Linked DNA regions of Homo sapiens. The protein of the gene in region 2 interacts with the protein of the main gene of each other region in a pairwise test. Each region holds a gene or a part of one and is shown on either strand. Other genes may lie near its edges.

Region 1 (7,364 bases), about 56 Mb from region 2:
CAGCCTGGGCAACAGAGTGAGACTCTGTCTCAAAAAAATAAAAAATAAAAAATAAAGGCATATCCACCCGAATGAATAGTAGGCAATGGTGAGAAAACAAACAACTGAAAAAACTTTCTATTTGTAAGTATTTTCAAGCTTAAAAAAATTAAAATTATACAAGGAAGACATATATACCCTTTTCCAGATTCACCTATTGTTAATATTTACCTCATTTGTTTTATAATTTGCACTTGTGTTTCTCTCTCTCTAAACATTATATATGTATGTTATACATTTGATTTTTTTTCCCTGAACCATTAAGAAGCAGATTATATACAACACGGCACTTTACCCCTAAATACTTCAGTGCTTATTTTATAAGATTAGGGATATTCTCTTACATAATCAATCACAGTACCATTATTAACTTCACAAATTTACACTGATAGTTTTTTTAGCTTTTTGTTGTTGTTGTTTTGAGATAGAGTTTCACTCTTCTTGCCCAGGCTGGAGTGCAATGGCGTGATCTCGGCTCACTGCAACCTCTGCCTCCCGGGTTCAAGTGATTCTCCTGTCTCAGCCTCCTGCGTAGCTGGGATTTCAGGCACCTGCCACCACGCCCGGTTCATTTTTGTATTTTTACTAGAGTCAGAGTTTTACCATGCTGGCCAGGCTGGTCTTGAACTCCTGACCTCAGGTGATCTGCCTGCCTCGGCCTCCCGAAGTGTTGGGATTACAGGCGTGAGCCACCGCACCCAGCCTGTTGTTGTTGTTTAAGAGACAGATCTTGCTATGTTGCCCAGGCTGGAGTGCAGTGGCTATTCAGAGACACAATCACAGTTCACTATAACCTTGAACTCCTGGTCTCAAGTGATCCTCCTGCCTCAGCCTCCTGAGTAGGAAGGACTACAGCCATGTGCCATCATGCCAGGCTAACAATGATACAATAATTGTATCCGATCTGTCAACCATATGTCAATTTCGTCAGTTGACCTAATAATATTTTTAATAGTAGTTGTGATATTATGATATACATACATACCGGTTTTCATCCATGGTTCCTAGCTCATAACTCCCATATCCCTTATTATACATAATGTTGGGGCACTTTAGGCCTCAGGAGCAGCCCTTAGAAAAAAGAACCTCTCTTTGACCTTCTCCTGCCCTCCTTTCACCAGCCCAAGGCAGGATCTCCAAAAGGGGTCCTGCACCATATCCTGGAGGAAGATTAATGCTGCACAGAGAGGCCAAGAATTTGGACAGGCCTTGCTGTGTTTCCCCACTCAGCCTATCAGTATTAGGTCATACCCTTGCCCAGTCACATTTCTGCATGCCTGTCAATCATGCCTATCCAATGAAGTCTCCATAAAAGGCTCAAGAGGACAGGGTCTGGGAAGCTTCTGGACAGCTGAACACATGCAGGCTTACAGGAAGATGAACAAGGTCTCATCTATTTTCCAGGAGGGTGGCGTACCCCAGCTCCCTGGGGACAGAAGCTCCTGTGCTCAAGACCCTCCCAGACCTTGCCCTATGTATCTCTTCATCTGGCTGCTTATTTGCATCCTTTAAAATGTCCTCTGTAACAAACTGATAAATGTCAAGTAAGTTTCCCTGAGTTCTGTGAGGTGCTCTAGCAGATTAATTGAACACCCCAGAGGGGGTCGTGGGAGGCCAAACTTGAGGTCAGTAAGAAGTTCTGAAAGTCTGGACTTATGACTGGTGGGAAGGAAGAATCAGTCTTGGGGGACTGAACTCTCAACCTGTAGAATCTGAGGCTATTCCCAGGTAGATAGCATCAGAATTGAATTGAATTGGAGGACACCAGCTAGGTGTGACCGCTTGATGTGTGCGGAAAAATCTAAACACACTTGATCACAGAAGTCTTCTGTGTTCATTGTTGCTGTTGAATGAGAAAATAGAAAAAACAAACAGTTTGAGTTGTTTTTTCTACACTACATTAGTAGAGGATCCAGTCTAGGGTAAGGTATTGCGCATTTAGATGTCATATCTCTGCAGTTTCAAATAAGGAGATTCTTATCTCCAAAATAATTAAATGAAAAATGCAATTGGAAGACGTGTCTAGTTTTACTGCTTTGCATAAAAGGGGGAAAAATAGACACACTGTATACATGTTTTTTATTCATCTGTATATCACAGACCATCCCCCTTAGAAGGATACACAAAAAACTCTGTTAATACTAGTTGTCTCCAAAATGAGAAACTGGCATGGCTGAGTGAGAGGAAGACTTCTGACTGTTAACAACTTTTGAATTTTGTACTATATGAATGTATAATCCAATTTTTAAAAGATTAAAAACTGCTGCTGCTAGAGGCAAGTATTAAGTACAATCTATTCATATTCAGTAATAGACATACGTTTGGCTGGATGAACTACAGAGGCTACAAAAAATATTTTGTTATCCTACCATGTTCTTTGTTCCAACCTCTTAGGTCTTCCTAGAAACAAAGGCATCAGAGTCAAGACCATAAAGGAGTGCATCTTAAGACAATGCATGGTACCATTTTACCTTCACAAAAGTTTGCTCTGTGCTCAAGAGGCAATTTATCATTTAGAAAAAAACAGTGTCTCAAATTCTCTTTAATATGTGATGATCTCCAACATTTTTTTTTTTTTTTTTTTTTTGGAGATAGAGTCTCACTCTGTCGCCCAGGCTGGAGTGCAGTGGCACCATCTTGGCTCACTGCAACCTCTGCTTCCCGGGTTCAAGCAATTCTCCTGCCTCAGCCTCCTGAGTAGCTGGGACTACAGGTGTGTGCCACCACGCCCATCTAATTTTTTGTATTTTAGTGGAGAAGGGGTTAATTTTTTGTATTTTAGTGGAGATGGAGTTTCACCATGTTGCCCAGGGTGGTCTTGAACTCCTGAGCTCAGGCAATCCGCCCACCTCAGCCTCCCAAAGTGCTAAGATTACAGGTGTGGGCCACTGCACTCAGGAATATCTTTTTAAAAGTGTGAAGCCTCTGTCTCACTCAAAGCAACCACTAGGAAGAGCACAGCGGCTTTAGTGAATCAAGAAATTTATCCCAATGTAACCCTGTTCATTTCATACAGAACAGGGCATATAAAGAGTAAATACTTGGCTGGGCACGGTGGCTCACGCCTATAATCCAAGCACTTTTGGGAGGCAGAGGCAGGCAGATCACTTGAGGTCAGGAGTTCGAGACCCACCTGGCCAACACGGCAAAACTCTGTCTCTACTAAAAATAAGAAAATTAGCCGGGTGTGATGGCGTGCACCTGTAATCCCAGCCACTTGGGAGGCTGAGGCAGGAGAATTGCTTGACCCCGGGAGGTGGAGGTTGCAAGATCGTGCCATTGCACTCCAGTCTGGGAGACAGAGCAAGACTCTGTCAAGAAAGAAAGAAAGGAAGAAAGAAAGGAAAGAAGAAAGAAAAAGAGTAAATACTCCTCTTTTATGCACACCTGATAAAGGTATCCTCCTGGTATTATCTTTCACTTGACCTCAAAACCATCAGCAACAGTAGAAGGTCTGGCTTCAAGACGAGAAATCTGAGTCACGAATATGTGAACTTGATAACTACCACTTAAAAATGTCACCAACCAGTACCACAGCCCTGAGATAAGAGATGAATCAAAATATTCCATACTGGCTTCAAATATTTAAACTGCAAAAGATGGCTGGGCATGGTGGCTGACGCCTGTAATCCCAGTACTTTGTGAGGCCGAGGCAGGCAGATTGCTTGAGTCCAGGAGTTCGAGACCAGCCTGGGCAACAAGGCAAAACCCCATCTCTACCAAAATACAGAAATTAGCCCAGCGTGGTGGTGCATGCCTGTAGTCCCAGCTACTTGGGAGGCTGAGGTGGGAGAATCACTTGAACCTGGGAGGCAGAGGTTGCAACAAGCTGAGATTGCACCACTGTACTCCAGCCTGGGTGACAGAGTGAAACCCCATCTCAAAAAAATAAATAAATAAAATAAAAATGCAAAATATATTAATTTGCTATTAAAGATATCTACAAGTTTTGGATTAAAGATTGGTTCTACTTAGACTTTAATTAGAAAAAGTCATGCCAAAATACAGTGTGGGGTCACCATAGCTCTAGTCCCCTAATTCAAGTGCATTCTAAGAGATACGCTATATACCAGGTGTGACTACAAGTAACTTTAATTTAGCTGTAAAAGGAAAGTTCTAAACTTCATAGAAAATAGGTGGCTGAGGGCCCCCAATCATGGTTTAAGGAAAAAGGAAAAGGTCAGGTGCAGCAACGCATGCCTGTATCCCAGTTACTTGGGAGGCTGAGGCAGGAAGATTAACTGAGCTCAGGAGTTGGAGGCCAGCCTAGACAACATAGTAAGACCCTGTCTCAAAAAAATAAAACAAAACAACAGCCGGGCGTGGTGGCTCACGCCTGTAATCCCAGCACTTCGGGAGGCTGAGTCAGGCGGATCACAAGGTCAGGAGATCGAGACCATTCTGGCTAACACGGCGAAACCCCATCTCTACTAAAAATACAAAAAAATTAGCCGGGCGTAGGGGTGGGCGCCTGTGGTCCCAGCTACTCGGGAGGCTGAGGCAGGAGAATGGCGTGAACCTGGGAGGGAGAGCTTGCAGCGAGCCGAGATCACACCACTGCACTCCAGCCTGGGTGACAGAGTGAGACTCCATCTCAAAAAAAAATAAGTAAATAAAACAAAACAAAACCAAAAACGATCTTATGTTAATATGTAGAATCTGCTCTGAATAAATCTTTTAAATCAGGAACGATTAAAAGACAGAGAAAGAATTTATAGCACACTGAAATAAGATTTTTAAAAAATTATGTGGACTGTATTCAAAGCTTGAATTCTTACTCAAAGTTCCTACTTACCTTTCCATATTAATGGGTGGAGCATGCATTTTGGTTGCTTCAGAAGTACGCTTGCCCATACTAGAGGACATGATGGTTTCACCTTCAGATTTTAATTTGTCCACAAAGTTATCTACTTCCTTTCCTTTGGCTCCAAGTTTTAAAGCCTTGCTGGGGCCTGAAGGCCTAAGTGGAAGAATTTGAAATTCATTACCCAAAGGTTTATTTTTACAAGCACACATGATCTGATGAAAATTTTGTATCTCCCGTCCAGAGAAATACACCTGTGCACAAAATTTTGTATATAATTTTGGGTAATTCACAGATTTCCCCTAAAATCAATCAATGAACATCAAGATTAAAAATCTACATTCCATAAAGCATTAAATAGCCCTTTCCTCCCCACAATAAGGCAACTCTCATAGGAAACTGAGGTCATGACATAATTTATAACTCTCTTTTATACAAAAGGAAAAACACCACATTCAGATTTCTTCTTTATCCTCATATTGTATGTGGCCAAATGTAACATCATATCTTACTTCATCAAGTCCTTCTTTATTTACAGCTTTCCAAGAAATCAGATTATGACTTCAAAGATAGACACATATACACCCTTCACCTGGTATTCTAAAGTACACTGGATTATACCTGGCTGGTGCAGGTGCCACTTTTGGTTTATCAGTTTCAATGATGGTCTCTGTGATCATGGCAGCTGTGCTGCCTCCAGATACTGCAGAGCTGCCAAATCCGCCAAATCCTGGTGCTTTTTTGCCCTGTCTCTCTGCATCTCTTCGGGCCTGTTGTAATTCCTTTGCTTTACGACGCATCTCAGCCTTAGCTTCACGTTCTTGAGTCTACAGAAAAAGACATACATTAATGTAGCTTTTTTTTTTGGGTTTTTGTTGAGACAGGGTCTCACTCTGTGACCCAGGCTGGAGTGCAAGTGGCACAATCACAGCTCACTGCAGCCTCAACTTCCTGGGCTCAAGTGATCCTCCCATCTCAGCCTCCCAAGTAGCTGGGACCCACATGCACGTGCTACCATGCCTGGCTAATTTTTTTTTTACTTTTTATAGAGACAGGGTCTCACTACGCTGTCCAGTCTGGTCTTGAACTCCTGGACTCAAGTGATACTCCCACTTCCGCCTCCCAAAGTGCTGAGATTACAGACATGAGCCACTGTGCCTAGCCTGGACATAGTTTTGAATACAGTCTACATTAGTAAGTAAAAATAGGAAAATGAGATTAGTGAAGCCTAAGAGAAAGACATACAAACAGGTAGTCCCAGAGAAGATCCTATTTACCTCTCTGACGGCTCTGAACACCTTCTCCTCATGAGAATCCATTTCTGTGAAGGTTCTGATCTGTGCCAAGTTAACATTCTCCCGGTATCCCAGTGCGACAATTTCATCAAAAGCAAAAATCAAATCAAAACAGTGCTCAGATATTTCATTCTCTTCTAAGGCTCGGCAATATTCAGGGATCTAAGCGTGGACACCAATAAAAAAGAAAGATTTAGAATTTATCAGCAGCTATATTTCCAAGTCTTATCCTTTAGAGTACATAAATTTCAATAACCTAAATCCCTTTATTAGCTACTTCTAGTCTTTATTTTATTTTTTGGGACAGAGTCTCGCTCTGCTGCCCACGCTGGAGTGCAGTGGTGCCATCTCGGCTCACTGCAACCTCCATCTCCTGGGTTTAAGTGATTCTCCTGCCTCAGCTTCCGGAGTAGCTGGGACTACAGGTGTGTACCACCACGCCCAGCTAATTTTTGTATTTTTAGTAGAGACGGGGTTTCACCATGTTGGCCAGGCTGGTGTTGAACTCCTGACCTCAGGTGATCCGCTTGCCTCAGTCTCCCAAACTGCTGGGATTACAGGCGTGAGCCACTGCGCCCAGCCTAACTCCCTGATTTTTTTTTTTTTTTTTTTTTTAAGACAAAGTCTAACTCTGTCACCCGGTCTGGAGTGCAGTGGCACGATCTCGGCTCACTGCAACCCCCACCTCCTGGGTTCACGCAATTCTCATGCCTCAGCCTCCTGAGTAGTAGGATTATGGGTGCCCGCCACCATGCCCAGCTAATTTTTTTGTATTTTGAGTAGAGACGAGGTTTCACCACGTTGGTCAGGCTGGTCTCAAACTTCTGACCTCAGGTGATCCACCCGCCTCAGCCTCCCAAAGTGCTGGGATTACAAGCGTGAGCCACCACGCCCAAGACCCTGATTCTTACAGCCGGGTGCAGCGGCTCATGCCTGTAATCCCAGCACTTCGGGACGCCAAGATAGGCAGATCACCTGAGGTCAGGAGTTCGAGACCAGCCTGGCCAACATGGTGAAACCCCGTACAAAAATTAGCCAGGCATGGCGATGCACATCTGTAATCTCAACTACTCGGGAGGCTGAGGCCAGAAAATTGCTTGAACCTGGGAGGTGGAGGTTGCAGTGAGCCGAGATTGCACCATTGCACCACTGCACTCCAGCCAGGGCAAGAGCGAGACTCCGTCTTTAAAAAAAAAAGAATCAGGGTCTTGCTGTGTTGCCCACAC
Region 2 (7,132 bases):
ATGGGTGCCATCCTTTAATCTGTACTTTCTTTTTCTTCTTTTTTTTTTTTTTGAGACTGAGTCTCGCTCTGTCACCCAGACTGGAGTGCAGTGGCGCGATCTCAGCTCACTGCAAGCTCCGCCTCCTGGGTTCACGCCATTCTCCTGCCTCAGCCTCCCAAGCCGGCCAGTCTTGGGGTAATTTTATCTTTTCCTGCAGCAATGTAAACATTTTGAAAGTACAGATTAAGGCTGGCCGCGGTGGCTCACGCCTGTAATCCCAGCACTTTGGGAGGCTGAGGCGGGCAGATCACAAGGTCAGGAGATCGAGACCATCCTGGCTAACATGGTGAAACCCCGTCTCTACTAAAAATACAAAAAATTAGCCGGGCGTGGTGGCGGGCGCCTGTAGTCCCAGCTACTCGGGAGGCAGGAGAATGGCGTGAACCCGGGATGTGGAGTTTGCAGTAAGCTGAGATCCCACCACTGCACTCCAGCCTGGGCAAGAGCCAGATTCTGCCTCAAAAAAAACAAAAAACAAAAAAAATTACCCCAAGACCAACTACCTAAAAATAGTTTACATATTCGATACCTTCTCTTCTAGACTTTTTTCATCTCTGTGTACTGTTTTTTTGTTTGTTTGTTTTGGTTTTGGTTTTTTTTTTTGAGACAGAGTCTTGCTCTGTCCCCCAGGCTGGAGTGCAGTGGCAATGACCTCTGCTCACTGCAAGCCCTGCCTCCTGGGTTCGTGCCATTCTCCTGCCTCAGCCTCCCGAGTAGCTGGGACTACAGGCACCCGCCACCACGCCCAGCTAATTTTTTTGTATTTTTAGTAGAGACAGGGTTTCACTTTGTTCGCCAGGATCTCCTTACCTTGTGATCCGCCTGCCTGGGCCTCTCAAAGTGCTGGGATTACAGGCGTGAGCCACCGCGCCCGGCCCCGTCTGTGTACTGTTACAGAAGCTACTTTTTTTTTTTTTTTTTTTTTTGAGACAGAGTCACCCTCTGTTGCCCAGGCGGAGTGCAGTGGCAGGATCTCGGCTTACTGCAACCTCTGCCTCCCAGGTCCAAGCAAGTCTCCTGCCTCAGCCTCCTGAGTAGCTGGGGCTACAGGTTCAGGCCACCACGCCCGACTAATTTTTTTTGTATTTTAGTAGAGATGGGGTTTCACCATATTGCCCAGGCTGGTCTCAAACTCCTGAGCTCAGGCAATCTGCCCGCCTCAGCCTCCCAAGAAGCTACATTCTTTTGAGCATTTACTATGTACCAGGTACTATGCTAAACACTTTTACTTCATGATTTTCAGAACAACCCAATGAAGGTACTTCCCCTTTATAAATGAGAAAATTGAGGCTGCGAGGTTAGGCTCTTAGTGATATAATTGCTCTATTTTTTTATAAGCAAAAAATACCACAGAAATTAATTTTTAGCTCAAGTGCAGCAGCTTATCATGGCCCATTGCAGCTTTGACCTCCCAGGGTTCAAGCAGTCCTCCCAGCTCAGCCTCCTGAGTAGTTGGAACTACATGCCTGTGCCACTATCCCGGGCTCATTTGTTTTTGTAGAGTTAGGGGTGTCACTTTATTGCCAGGGCTCAAGCAATCTGCCCACCTTGGCCTCCCAAAGTGCTGTGATTATAGGTATGAGCCAGCATGCCTGGCCTAGTTTTGTAATTTGATAATATATCAGTAATATTTTTGTCCCCTCTCTTCCTCCATCCCAGGCTGGGCTTGGAGCCCACAGGACCCTAGAAGTCCTTTAAGAACATTTAACGCTGGACTCAGCTGGGGGCAGGACCAGGATGAAGAAGATGCTTGTTGGATTCTTGAGGACACAGCATGTCTGGAAGCCACCAACCACTGTCCCTTCTGGGACTCAACAGGCTCCCGTGTTTGTAGAAGTGGCTTTGTGGAATATTCCCATCTCCTGCCTCCTAATAGCTTTGAGGGTAAGTATTGTTCCCTCCCCCTCAAATATCTCATCCAGGTTTATGAAGCTCCTTATACCCATCCTCTTACAATCTCCTTTTACAGGTGACAAAAATGAGGCTTACAGGTTAGGCCACTAGATTATACAAGTCAGTCAGCGCAGGGGTTTTGATTCAGTTCCTGTCTGCTGCTTTTAGGAGCTCCAGTTAGTTGAAACTGGGGAATGACCCAATTGTACCTTCTCTTTTCAGCATTCATTTTGTGCTAAATATTGCGCACATCATTGTATGTAATCTCCGTAACTCCAAGTTATTCTCACTCTGCAGATGAGTAAACTGGGGAACAGAAACATTCAGCAATATGGCACCCAGCTAGTAAATGTGGAAGCCAGGACTCAAATTCTCACTTTGCAGCCAGATAGCTTGCAAAGACAGTTCTTCAGCCCTCTCCTTGCCCACAGAAATACTAGGGTCAGGACTACTAAAATGTCTTTAATGAGAGCCTTGAATCAAGTAAGCAAAGTAGGTGATGCCCCTGAACGGGCCTAGCTCCTGCACAGTCACAGTCCAGCCATAGGACCCTTGTTCCAGGCAGGGCAGTCGCACATCAGGGTCCTCATCTGAGAACTGAATCAGGGTCCCCTGAGGGTTTAGAACCCTCAAGCATTCTGATAGAAGCTGGTAAGCCCTAGGCAGACCTCCCCGGGCAACAGCATCCCATGTGCCTTTGTCCAGCAGTAGTTGGAAAGAGCCTGAAGAAGCCACAGCCCCCAGGTTCTGAGCATCGGCGTGCATGAAGTGGAGGCTTGAGGCAGGGTGTCCAGGGCATAGAGGTGTTTGGCCTGGGCCACCCTCCAGGAGGCTATTCATGTGGGCCACAGCCACAGGAGAAAAGTCCACCCCCAGCACATCCACTGGGTGTGGAGATTTGGTGTAGAGGCCTGTACATAGGCTGGAAGTCCCACAGCCCACATCCAGCACTCGCAGAGGACTGGCAGCCTGTGCCTCCTGCAGCAATGGCAGTAGGAGCCCCTGGACTTCGTCGTATCCAAAGAACCAGTCGAAGGTGGGGACAGTGCCCAAACGAGGCTGGGCATGCAGCCGATCCCAGAGACAGCGGTCCGCCAGGCAACTATCAGCCAGTGAGCCTGTGGGCACGGTTGGAGGGTGTCACTTGGTCTATGTCGCCACTGCAAAAACGTCGTATATACACACTGGCGTCTTTTTTTTTTTTGAGACAGGGTCTCACTCTGTGACCCAGGGTTGAGTACAGTAGCACAATGATGGCTCACTGAAGCCTCCACCTCAGCCTCCTGAGTAGCTAGGACTATAGGCGCCATCGTGCCCGGTTAATTTTTTTTGTAGACAGGGTCTCGCTATGTTGCCCTAGGTTGGTCTCGAACTCCTGGGCCAAGCGATCTGCCCGCCTCGGCCTGGCAAAGTGTTAGCATTACAGCCGTGAGCCACCACGCACGGCCCACCGTAGGGTTTGAGAATCACAATTTCAGGGACTACACTCCTGACTCACGAGGAACCCACCTTACCCTCCCCACTCTGCCCCCACCTTGCCCTCTCCACTCTGCCCCCACCTCCCTACCCGCAAAGGGGCGGCACGTCCCCATCATCAGGCTCGGCAAGTGGAGCATTCGACGCAGCGCGGCCATCTGGAGATTCGGGTAAGTTCGACCAGAGAAGCTTATGTGAAGCGTCCACCCTACTCCAGCCGGAGAGGCCTGAGGTCCAGGGGAAGATCTGCAAATTCCGCGTAGCGAAAGGCGGCGTACAGCTTCCCCGAACTCTGCAGTCCCGGAAAAAAGAACGCGGACACAGACTATGGTAGGAACGGCCTTTATTGGCTGCAGCGGGAAGTGGAGGAGGGTATACAGCGTCCGCAGACCTGAAATCAAATGAGAAAGTGTGAGCACCCCGATGGAGGAGCCAGCTGGATCTCGGTTGTCCTTCTCCGAGATTCCCGGTGTCCCGGCGTTTGAGGATAGAACCAGCGGATGGGAAGCCGCCAGCACCGAAGACATGACGCCGAGGGGGCCAGAGCCCTTTCCCTCTTCCTCCGTACATTACGGGGAGCGGCACCACAAGCCCGATCCCCGCCAAGAAAAGGAGGGTCCTGAGACCCCGCCCAGAGCCTTCCACCCGGCACCCCCACCACTCCCGGCCGCCCAATCTGGCTACTACAGCTAAAACCACACTTACTAGCTCACCACCCTCCGAAAGGCCTCCCGCACCGCGGAGCTCCTTTATATAGCCCGAGGACCCGCCCCCGAGTTGCGATTGGCCCGCGGAAGGCCGGGGCGGAGCCCCGCGGATCCGGCGCTGAGCGGAAGTACGGACCGTGAACTGGAGTGGAATCGCGACTATGGGAGCTCCGGGGGGAAAGATCAACCGGCCCCGAACGGTGACTGTGTGGGGGCCGCGACTTTGTTTCCTCAAGCGTTCCTGAGCCCTTTTATCTCGCACGAGATGGGATCAGTGAGGGGCCGGGGCTGCCTGGTGGAGGGGCCCCGGGTCGCGGCGAGCCCACTCCATCTGATTCGCATCTTTCTCCCCGGCAGGAGCTGAAGAAGAAGCTGTTCAAACGCCGGCGGGTGTTGAATCGGGAGCGGCGTCTGAGGCACCGGGTGGTCGGGGCTGTGATAGACCAAGGGCTGATCACGCGGCACCACCTCAAGAAGCGGGCGTAAGTACTAGACCCTCTTCCTGTTGGTCGTCCCCACCGAGTCTTCCTTCCTCCCTGCAGAGCTCCGGAGCAGCTTCACCTCTCAGCTCACCTTGTGCACTGACGCTTATGCGGGGAATGTCTGTCGGCTGTTAGTTCCTAAGCTCTGATAGCCTCTCACAATACCTGTAGCAGACAACCTTTCTTTGGGTTTTGGATTCTGTTAAGAATCTCAGGAAAGCCGGGGATGGTGGCTCATACCTGTAATCCCAGCACTTTGGGGGGCTGAGGTGGGCGGATCACCTGAGGTCGGGAGTTCGAGACCAGCCTGACCAACATGGTGAAACCCCGTTTTTGCTAAAAATACAAAAATTAGCCAGGCGTTGTGGCCGGCACCTGTAGTCCCAGCTACACGGGAGGCTGAGGCAGGAGAATTGCTTGAACCTGGGAGGCGGAGGTTGCAGTGAGCCGAGATCACGCCACTGCACTCCAGCCTGGGCCACAGAGTGAGACTCCGTCTCAAAAAAAAAAAAAAAAAAAAAAGAATATCAGGAAATCTGTTGGCTCTCCATTCTCCAAGTAATGTTATACATTCACACAGATTTTTATAAGTAAACTTATTTTTACATACAGAAAAGTGCACACATAGGCGCATAAAACTCGAAGAATTTTCCCAAAGGCACTCATAGGATTTCACTTGTAAGTTTCAAGGCCTCCTGTGTCTTGAGGAAGAGTTCCCATCCCATTAATTACTTTCTGTGTCCTTTTTTTTTTTTTTTTTTTTTTTCCTCTTTTTTGAGACAGAGTCTCCCTCTGTTGCCCAGGCTGGAGTGAAGTGGCATGATCTCGGCTCACTGCAACCCCTGCCTCCTGGGTTTAAGCTATTCTCTTGCCTCAGCCTCCCGAGTAGCTGGGATTACAGGTGCTCCCCACTGCACCCGGCTAATTTTTGTATTTTTAGTAGAGACGGGGTTTCACCATGTTGGCCAGGCTGGTCTTGAACTCCTGACCTCAGGTGATCCGCCCACCTCAGCCTCCCAAAGTGTTGGGATTACAGGCATAAGCCACCGCCCCCGATCTATGTCCTTTCATTAGCTTCTTCAATGTAAATATTTAGGGTTTCTATTACTATTTATATTATATTTATTTAATACTTTTCCTTTTTTTTTTTTTTTTGAGACGGAGTCTCGCTTTGTCGCCCAGGCTGGAGTGCAGTGGCGCGATCTCGGCTCACTGCAAGCTCCGCCTTCTGGGTTCACGCCATTCTCCTGCCGCAGCCTCCCGAGTAGCTGGGACTACAGGCGCCCGCCACTGCGCCCAGCTAATGTTTTGTATTTTTAGTAGAGACAGGGTTTCACCGTGGTCTCGATCTCCTGACCTCGTGATCCAGCCGCCTCGGCCTCCCAAAGTGCTGGGATTACAGGCGTGAGCCACTGCGCCCAGCCTATTTAATACTTTTTCTATAGCCAGAACTATTTGTGTGACCTCAGTTGGTTCAGGTTAACCTAGCTCTCTTTATTTCCACTTACCCATCAGGTCCAGTGCACGTGCCAACATTACACTGTCAGGGAAGAAGCGCAGAAAACTCCTCCAGCAGATCCGGCTTGCCCAGAAAGAGAAGACAGCCATGGAAGGTGAGGCTGGGACAGAGGTGGGTGAGGGGAATCCTGGATTTATTTGGGATAATACTTCCTTCTTCCCTTTACTCAGTGGAAGCCCCTTCAAAGCCAGCCAGGACTAGTGAACCACAGCTCAAAAGGCAAAAGAAGACAAAAGCCCCCCAGGATGTAGAAATGAAGGACCTTGAAGATGAGAGCTAAACCTCTTCCACTAGAAGATTCTCAACTGGAGCCAGCCTTCAGACTCAGTGGTTGTTTCAGAGGACTTTGACAAAAGCAAGGCCCCTTTTCACTCTCCAGATTTCCTCCTACCTAATGGCCTACTGACCTCCCCTAGAGGGATGTCTTTGGGAGGGAAGAAGGTACAGAAGAAAGATTGGAGAAGGGCCTCTCTAGCAGTCAACTCCATTTGTAATAAAGCCCTAGCACTCTGAGATGTGTGTGATTAAATGTAGGAATGGGGATGGGTCATGAAAAGATTGGGGAGTATGGAAACAAGACAGTGAGGAAGCAGTACCCACAGCTTCCTTGTGCAAATGCAACAAGATGCCAGCCTCTGCCCTCAAGAGTGGTGGTGCCTGGCCGGGTGCAGTGGCTCACGCCTCTAATGCCAGCACTTTGGGAGGCCGAGGCAGGTGGATCACCTGAGGTCACAAGTTCGAGACCAGCCTGGCTAACCCCGTTTCTACTAAAAATACAAAAAATTAGCCGGGCGTGGTGGTGCACGCCTGTAATCCCAGCTACTTGGAGGCTGAGGCAGGAGAATCGCTTGAACCCGGGAGGCGGAGATTGCCTACCGGGGTATTGCTTGAGGCCAGGAACTCAAGGCTGTAGTGTGCTGTGATCTCATCTGTCTCCTTAGTGAGTGATACTCTAACTTTCCATTTATGACAAAGATACAGATTATTCGAGAAGTTGAAGTTACAGTGAGCCA

The links.
Region 1: the proteins of LBHD1 (region 2) and ARCN1 interact in binary tests that used the Homo sapiens proteins (3 or more experiments, as listed by UniProt).

Annotation. Positions count from the first base shown.
Region 1 is NC_000011.10:118,582,115-118,589,478, reverse strand, and holds part of ARCN1 (coatomer subunit delta), read right to left. Parts: intron 6,301-7,364; coding exon 6,121-6,300; intron 5,671-6,120; coding exon 5,465-5,670; intron 5,000-5,464; coding exon 4,835-4,999; intron 1-4,834. UniProt on the Homo sapiens protein: Component of the coatomer, a cytosolic protein complex that binds to dilysine motifs and reversibly associates with Golgi non-clathrin-coated vesicles, which further mediate biosynthetic protein transport from the ER, via the Golgi up to the trans Golgi network.
Region 2 is NC_000011.10:62,662,317-62,669,448, reverse strand, and holds the end of LBHD1 (LBH domain-containing protein 1), read left to right. Parts: intron 1-1,340; exon of another isoform or gene 1,341-1,701; coding exon 1,702-1,926; exon of another isoform or gene 1,927-2,397; coding exon of another isoform or gene 2,398-3,053; intron 3,054-3,502; coding exon of another isoform or gene 3,503-3,938; exon of another isoform or gene 3,939-4,137; intron 4,138-4,232; exon of another isoform or gene 4,233-4,279; coding exon of another isoform or gene 4,280-4,318; exon of another isoform or gene 4,319-4,475; coding exon 4,476-4,600; intron 4,601-6,115; coding exon 6,116-6,213; intron 6,214-6,289; coding exon 6,290-6,320; coding exon of another isoform or gene 6,321-6,399; 3' UTR 6,400-6,632; downstream 6,633-7,132. Other genes in the region: CSKMT (citrate synthase-lysine N-methyltransferase CSKMT, mitochondrial), read right to left, coding at 2,398-3,053, 3,503-3,938; uncharacterized protein C11orf98, read left to right, coding at 4,280-4,318, 4,476-4,600, 6,116-6,213, 6,290-6,399.